2 separate regions of the Homo sapiens genome follow, and region 1 is linked to region 2. The links come from fine-mapping of genetic effects on gene expression. A gene starts in region 2. The other region holds a variant in brackets. All regions are shown on one strand. Distances are from middle to middle. Region 1 overlaps ZZEF1 (zinc finger ZZ-type and EF-hand domain containing 1). Region 2 holds the start of P2RX1 (purinergic receptor P2X 1).

The links.
Region 1: its variant is fine-mapped to the expression of P2RX1 in transverse colon (GTEx, PIP above 0.99).

What each region holds. Positions count from the first base shown.
Region 1 is chr17:4,077,508-4,082,012 of GRCh38, forward strand. ZZEF1 (zinc finger ZZ-type and EF-hand domain containing 1) reads right to left here. Exons shown (of 55, transcript NM_015113.4): 18 at 3,869-3,983; 19 at 376-535. Among named protein-coding and RNA genes, the nearest start is that of ZZEF1, 63 kb to the right of the region's middle. The variant A/C (reference allele first, on the strand shown) is at 2,136.
Region 2 is chr17:3,914,563-3,918,783 of GRCh38, forward strand. It overlaps P2RX1 (purinergic receptor P2X 1), which reads right to left and starts at 1,903. Exons shown (of 12, transcript NM_002558.4): 1 at 1,527-1,903. The coding sequence starts at 1,663. RefSeq lists enhancers at 25-104, 215-284, 1,007-1,076.

The sequences.
Region 1 (4,505 bases), 160 kb after region 2:
ATGCTCATACACCTTAGATTTCTAAAATTCAAGACTTTCATTTTTAGATGACTTGATTAAAACAGGGATAGACTCTCCTGAAGAGCGAGACATCACGTAAGAGTGCTATATGATTGCAAAAGCAATATTTAGGCTGTGAAATGATCTAATTCTACAATAAAAATACTTAGGCATACCACCACACTCAGAGAGTAAACTCTAGACAAAAAGACATGCTGTTGAATTCTATTTTAATTAGACCAAACCAGTCCAAGAATCTGAATCGTAATGAAGAAAGCCATATGCACACTCATTGCATGAGTTACTAAAGAAGAGAACACTCAGAGTCAAAACCCAAACGCCATCTGTTTTCATGGATTTTATATTGAAACTCACATTTTTCAATAAGGTCCACGGCAAGATCTTTGGCTCCAGAGTCCGTGCTCTTCAGCTGCAGGTAGCACCAGGATAGCAGGCTGCCTTGGACGGACCAGAACAGGGAGAAGAGCACAGAGCCCACCTCCCCTGGGGCCCCACTGAGCATTAACAGCTCGCACTACAAGGGAGGAGACAAACAGAAAGTGTTCGTGACAAGGCCATTCACAGAGCATAGCCAAGGGCATCCTCTAAAGCAGCAGCTGTCACCAGCAAAAACAAACTATAGCCACGGAAAAGTCATGAAACAGCTTTCAACCCAGCAGTCACCAAGAAAGATGGTATTACGAAAACTCCCCTTTCCCTCCAGCTTTTTGGAACCTTTACAAAGGTTTTTTATTCCACATGACATCTCCTTCTACCACCTCAGGAACCTTACCCCCCTGGGTATCTCTTCTTTCTCTTACATCTTAAAATGTCCTTTCTCTGGCTCCTTCCCTCAAGCCTTTAATCAAACCTCTCCCACCTTAAAAAAATCATTATTCATGCCTCCATGGCTCTCTAACCATCACCTTTGTTCTCAAAAGTTTCTTTGAAGGGTTATCTGACCTCCAGATACGGAAGATTGTACACTATATGATTCCATTACAGGTACAACCCAGGCAATACAGATGTGCTGGGTAGGAGTAAGTAGAAAGAAGAACAAGGAAATGGTGAACACAAGCTTCGGGATGATGGTTACGCCTGGCAAGGCAGGAAGAGAGTGAGCCATGAAAAGGCATGTGGATGGAGGGAAATGGACTCAAAGATACTGGGAATGTCTAGTCCTTAAAAGAGACACTTGCCACATTGTTGCAACTACCTGATGACATATTTGCTCCTCAAGACTGTGCTTTTTTAAAATCACTGTATCCCCTGTTCCTAGCACAGGGCCTAACACACAGCAGGCATTCAGTGGATATTTGTTGAATTTGATAGATTCCTGAGAAAAATTTCAGACCAGGTACATTTCTGATCACCTTTAATTTTTTTTCCTGATTGAACCCTAACTCTTTAGTATAACCATAAATGTCTTTTACTAAAAGATAATTCAGGGAAACACATTAATAGCTGCATCTCTAGCAAGGAGGTTTAATGATATCTGTAACTTCTTTTGTACCACAGGTAAGTGAAAGAGAAGAAAAGACACACAACTGATCTCCAAATGGTATATACAATTATGCGAAATTCTCTTGGGCAAAATGCTATCTCATTTCTCCACGTACATCTTAAAATAAATCTGGCCTATCTTATCTAGCAGAAAGAGGACAAGGCTCTGAGTCAAACAGCCCCGGTTTCAGTCCTGGCTCTAGCACCTACCCACTCCTCACGTGCGGGGCAGAATCGACTCCTATGAGAACCAGGTGAGAACGCTGAAGTTTTCTGCCCAATGGCACTGATGATGTAACAACAGAAGAAAGACTGGTGAGGGGGAGAACTCAGTTCAGGCTTCAGGGATCTGAGAAACAGGTAGAATGTAGATGAGCTCCAGAAGAAAGGGAAGGTATGGGAAATGCAGAAATAAGGATGGAGATTCGAATGAGCCATGGCTAACTGGGGCCGAGAACACATACTGATGAGACTGAAGTGAGTTTTTTAAGGAAGACTCAGAGATGGGCAGAAGAGTCTGGAAATAAGCCAGAAAGCAGAAAGTAAGAGAAAATTAATGTGACAGCAAAAAATAGAGCATAGTTTTTTAATTAAAAACAAAGTTGAGGCTTATAAAGTCAACGTTACCCTAG[A/C]TCTAAATTAATACTAGATCTAAACAGTGGTCAGCCTAAGAGCAACCTTGGCAAATGATAACCTAGGCACCCTACAGGTGCTCTGAGGTCCCCATCAGTGAATTGGGGGAGACACCTGCTGATGGCCTATCATGCCAGGCAGCTGGGAATGAATGAAATCATGGCTCTAACAGCAACTCAAAACAGTAAGGCACCCGCAAAAATGTAAGAGATTTAAAGACACTAAGTTCAGTCAAAAGATACAAGATAAGTTATCAGCCACAAAAGAAAAGTTACCTTCAAGTCCACATCATTAGATACCTCAAAGATGTGGTTTGGACTAGTCTACCACAAAATCTCCTCCAGCTCTCTGGTTCCCATATTTAGCCCAAAGAGATAGTTCTTGGTTTCCTAGTACAGGGGTGCTATCACTTTAGAATCTCTCGGGGTGCTTAGAAAAATGCAGGTTCTTAAGCCCTATCCCTAGAGATCTTGAATCAGTAGCTTAGGGTGGGATCTAGAAATCTTTTTTCTGTCAAATATCCCAAGTGACTGATCCACTTGGAGCATAAACTACATTTTAAGAAAGAAAATCCCTTATATTTTTTAAAAAAGGCAAATTTAAAAAATCACTAACACAGAAAAAAGATAATATACTTTCAGATTTGATTAGTCCACGAAATTGCTAAGAAATCTGAATTTTTTTTTTGTTTTTTGTTTGTTTGTTTGTTTGTTTTGAGACAGAGTTTCGCTCGTTGCCCAGGCTGGAGTGCTATGGCGCGATCTTGGCTCACTACAACCTCCGCCTCCCAGGTTCAAGCGATTCTCCTGCCTCAGCCTCCCGAGTAGCTGGGATTACAGGCATGTGCCACCACGCCCAGCTAATTTTATATTTTTAGTAGAAAGGGAACTAATTTTTAATTAAAAATTAAATTAGCTCAGCTAATTTTGTATTTTTGTATTTCTCCATGTTAGTCAGGCTGGTCTTGAACTCCCGACCTCAGGTGATCCGCCCACCTTGGCCTCCCAAAGTGCTGGGATTACAGGCATGAGCCACTGTGACCGGTCCTGAATTTCTTTTTTAAAGTCCAAGTAGTTTTCCTGAAAATTCACACCACTAACACATATCTGTGTGTTGGGCTCACTGACAACCACTACAAGGGGACTTGATATAAATCCATTCCTCTTTTTCCACAGGAAGCATTATCGAGCACTTCTGTGTTTTTATCGTTTGCTGACTACCAAGAACCGTAACATGCCCTCACTCGTTTGCAAGGGCTGGCTGGGAAACCTTTGTGATCATTTGTAAGAGTCAAGTAACAAAGTACATTCATGCCAGGCAGAGTGGCTCACACCTATAATCCCAACACTTTGGGAGGCCAAAGTGGGAGGATTTCTTGATTCCAGGAGTTCAAGACCAGCCTGGGCAACATAAGAGAGACTCCATCTCTACAAATAATTTAAAAATTAGCTGGGCGTGGTGGCGTGTGCCTGTGTCCCAGCTACTTGGGAGACTGAGGTGGGAGGACTGCTTGGGCCTGGGATGGGGAAGCTGCAGTGAGCTGTGATTGTGCCACTGCACCCCAGCCCGGGTGACAGAGCAAGACCCTATCTCAAAACAACAACAACAACAGAAAAAACCACAACAAAGTACATTCATACTGCAAAGAGGCAAAGGGGGGCACAAGAGACTGCCACATCACGTGCCCCCACAAGCATGAGACAAAGAAAACAGGGAGGCAGCCACTGGATACCTCTCGAGCAGCAACAGAGACGAGAGTGTCCATGACCGCCAGGACTTCACTGATGTTCATCTTGGCCAGGTCGTTCTTCTCAGGTAAAAGAAGAAGGCCGCCTGGATCCTTGTCACTGAAAGGATACAAATTAGTCATGACACCTGGCTTCAGGAGAAAGATTTTTATACTATTTTAAAAGATTCCAAAACAGAGCGCAGAAAGGTTTCAGTGTCATTTCCATGGGATGGGAGGAGTTTGGGTCAGGAATACAGGCTGTGGACCCAGCTGGGGCTGTGCCGCTGTCTGTCCACATGTGCTTCCATTAGCACAGACTCACAAATCCTCCAGTCCTGGATGAGACCCTGAGGTAGAAGGCTGATGAATAAATCACCTTGGCCACCAATATGAAATACACCTCATCTCACGACTGCTAGCTTCAAAGTCCTGGCTAAACGTTCCTTGTGTCTTCACATGTCTTCACAGGACGGCCCCAGGCCCTTTCAGCATCCTTGCTACTTGATTCTGAGCACATTTTAAACAGACAGCCCTCTAAGTCTGGCATCCATACCAGGTATAGTCTGACTTGCAGGCAGTCGCTAAGGATATTAGTTCCCTTCCTCCTTCAAGAGTCAATACTTCTAGTAATGAAGCCTGT
Region 2 (4,221 bases):
TCCAGCAAGGGTAGGCTGGGCCTGCGCAGACAGCCTCTCCCAGGGACGGTCAGGAGTGATACTAAGGGTGGACTTCCGGCCCGTCCTGTACCTGGCATCCCACCATCAGTGCCCAGTAGAAAGGATCCACAGCCCCTTGTGATGGTGAGGAAGGAGAAGGCACAGCAGAGGCCTGGGGGTCAGGAGGGCTCAGCTGCAACCCTGGGTTTGCTGCTGACTTGCTGTGGACCTGGAAACCCCACTGCCCCTCTCTGGGCCTCAGTTTCCCTCACAAGCTCAGACATCACAGATGTCAAATTAGTTTCTGAACAAGAGAGAGGAGAGGTCAAGGCTGGGGTCTGGCCCTGGGTCCACCTGGCCGGCTCTGAGGTTCTGGGGACTGGTGGGACAGAAGGAGGGCTCTTTTGGACGCCAGAAGTTTCCGGGGGACTAGGACTTCATGGTCCTTGTTTGGGCCCTGGGTCAGCCTGCCCTGGACTCCATTTAGCAGTTCTGGTTCGGAACCATGGTAAAAATGGGGAGGGTAGAGCTCTCAGAATCACACGGCAAAGGCAGGCAGGGGCTACTGGGCACCCCTAGGACCCCAGCAGGGGCTGAGCCCCCTCCAGTGGCCCTGGGGCCTCCAGGAGACCTCTGCAGAGTCACTGTGAGTGGACAAGATGCACCACACACAGGGGACACACACTGGCCACCCAGACACTTGGCCACAGGGCAGACATGGGCACAGCCATATGTACACATAAGGGTACCCACATGTGGGCACTCAGCACCAGGGACACACACCCAGACACATATAGGCACAGAGCTCCATATGCACACTCACAAGTGTGCCAGCCTCTGCCAGGCCTGTCTTGGCTCCCGAGACAACCATACTGCAGGAGCGTCCCACGCTGCCTCTGATTCTGCACTCCCAGCCCGGTGGGACAGGTCCGGAGATGCCCAGAAAGGAACTATCATCCCTGGGACCAGAACCAATCTCTGTCCTCCGCCTGACATGCCAACATGAAGGCACCAGGTATTCAGAATGTGAGAGTTTCTCTGCTCCGGGGGCCTCAAACGTCCCTGGATGTCCCTTGCTCAGGCAGGGAAGCTGGCAGCAGAGTCTGTCTCTCTCTAACTTGTCATATGGGGTGACGGGTGTGGGGTATGGCCTCTGTGTGTCAGTGGCGGCCTGGTTTGGCAGGCGGTCAGAGGTCGAGGACTCAGTGGCTGTGGTTGGTGGTGCCCTGGCCCTGAACACCACTAACCACTCAAAGGAACCATAACACTGAGCCGGCTCCTCAGAACCCAGAGACTCTGCCTCCTGTTCACCGAAGGCCCCCGGGCAGGGCTTCCCCTCCGGCCTCGTCCCCATCTCAACAGCGAGTTGGCAGGATTTTCTATTCTCGCACAGTGGCTTGCCAGGAAGGCCTTCCCCTGGATGGAGAGGAAGAGGGGCTCGCTGGTGTCACGCAAGGGATGTCAGAGTCTGGAGGACAGGCCCGGGGTAGGGGCTGGTGCAGGCAGCGGGAGGCGCCCGGACTCACCCGATGACGTAGACCAGGACCACCAGCTGGATCAGTCGGAAGATAACGCCCACCTTCTTATTACGCACCAGCACCATGCGGGGGGTGTCATACTCGAAGAGGAAGGCGGCCAGCTCCTCCTGGAACCGCCGTGCCATGGTGGGCCGGCTGGGGCTCAGAACTGAGCCCCCTGCACGGCCTCTGCTCTCAGGGTGAGCCGGGTGCCACCACCCACGTCGATGGTAGAGCTTCTGGGGGCTTCCTGGCCCCTTAGGAAGAGCAGGGCGGTGCAGGTGGAGCCAGAGGACAGGAGCCAGAGGTCAGCTGGAGGCACTTGGGTTGGAGAGAGAATCCCTGGGTGATCAGAGCAGCTCTTGGCCCCTGGAAGGCAACAGACTGCAGGCCAGCCTCGCCCATGGACAAATAAATTCCCAAAGATAGATGGGGCGGGGCTGGTGGGGCCACCCAGGCCCAGCCCCACTGCCCCTCCTGGCTCTGCGTGGGCCTTGTTGGGCCTCCGGAAACAGGAGTTGTTGGCAGGAAACCACAGGCCACCCGTCACAGGGGCAAAGATAAAGCTCTCAGTCGACTCCTCAAGTTATCCTCCCCCCAAAACCTGGCAAGATGGAGCTCTGGCCAGGGCCTGGGGGAAGCTGGAGTCTCCTCAGATTAGGGGACTCCCCGCGACTCCCCTCCACTGCCAAAATGAGACCTCCATCCCCAGCCCCATCCACCACCCTCCACCCTCCCCCACCAGGGTTGGCTGCTTCGTCCCTGGGGGTCTGCAGCGAGCAAGGCAGAGAGGAAGGAGGCTCTGAGTTCCAGCCTGGCCTGTGCCCGGTCAACCTCGGTGCTGAGCTGGCATCTCTATCCCCCAGCTCTCCTCTCCCACTGTCTGTCCTGCCGGGGCCACCATCAGAGGGAGAGAGGTGGCAGGTGCCCAGCCAAGACCAGCACCACATCCGTCACCAGTGCCATGGGGGGCCCAAGACCAGCCGAGAGAGCCTGACCTCGGAGATCCCTGGCTCTGCCACTTCTTGGCTGTGGGGGCTGGGTGTCACCTTGCCTCTCCGAGCCTGCTTCCTCATCTGTAAATTGGGGTAATAAGGGCTGTTCCTTCTAGGTCGAGGCTCACAGGGGATGGGTCTCAGCAACACGGGACAGAGAACTGGAGGCCACCATTGAGTCTGGGGCACAGCACCTCTGCAGTCCCTGCCTTCCCTTCCCACCCCCAGCTCGGGCCCTGAACACAGGGGTTTGGGGTGGGCAGAGGGTCCCACGTTGGCTCCTCAGAGCTGGAGGCCTCCCCAGCCCCACCCCTCGTTTTGAAGATGAGAAAACCAAGCTCAGAGAAGAGAAATGAGTTGCCCAAGCTCACCCGGGGTGGTACTGGAGGTTCAAGCTGGAAGCAGGGGCCTCCCTGGCGAGCCCCCACGGCCCTGTCGTCGGAGCCGCCCCACCCTTAAGGCTGATAAGGAGTCTTCTTGCTGGCGAGCCATGAGCTGGAAGTGCTCTGGGCAGGGAGCCAGGCCCTGGGGCTGGGAATCCCGGCAGCCTGTCTGAATGGGGGTCACCCACAGAGGGCTGCCCATGGCCCCTTCCAGCACCCAGGTCAGTCTCTCCTTGTCAAGTAGATCAGCCTCACCCCTCGCGGAGTTTCTGCTAATCCAGTGGGTGTCATGGGCTTTTCTAAAGAAAATCCAGAGATGCTGGGAGCCAGAACTGTGGTGGCCACGTCTCCCCTTGGCCTGACCTTGACCCTAGACAGTTCCTTTCCCAGCTGCCCCTGTGGCCATTGGAATGGGAGGCACCAGGACACAGCTGCTTGTGATGGGGAGTGGGGTGGGTGCTGAGACTGTGTGGGCCATTCTGGGTCCCTTTTCAGCCACCCTTCTCCCTGATATGCGTTCTAGAGAGTGGGTGGGGTGGGAGGGAACGGAGGGAGGAAGGGAGGGAGGGAGGGAAAAGGAAGGGAAGGGAAGGGAGGGAGAGAGGGAGGAGGAAAGGGAAGGGAAGGGAGGAAGGAGGGAGGAAGGGAGGGAGGGAGAAGGAAGGGAAGGAAGGGAGGGAAGGGAAGAGAGGGAGGGGAGGGAGGGAGGGGAGGGAGGGAGGGAAGGGAGGGAGGGAGGGAGGGAAGGAGTAAAGGAAAGAAGGAAGGGAGGGAGGGAGGAGAAAGGAAGGGAAGGGGAGGGAGGGAGGGAGGGAAGGAAAAAAGGAAGGAGGGAGGGAAGGAGGGAGGAAAGAAGAAGGAGGGAGGGAAAAAAGGGAGGGAGGAAGGAAGAGGGAGGGAGGGAGGAGAGAGGGAGGGAGGGAAGGAAGGAAGATCAGGAAGTTCTTCCTCTCACATCACCACCATGTCTTCTTCCTCCTCCTCCTCCTCCTCCTCCTCCTCCTCCTCCTCCTCCTCCAAGGAGCCACACTTGCTGACAGAGAGATTGACGGATGGACTGACAGACTTGCTTGGACAGATTGATGGACTGACAGAGCACACACACGTGATTCAGTTACAGCCTAGGCCCTGGCCCTGGCCCTGAGAAAGTGGACTGGCCTGGAGCACCGTCTCATTTGGGGATCTTATCATATCCACAGTGTACCCCAGGGACCTACATTTATTTTCCTGCTGCTGATAACTCCACAAGAGCAAGACAGCCAGCTGTCGGGGTCAATGTCTCTTTCACTGGCTCTAAAATGCATCTTTCTGATCCAAAGGCTGTGA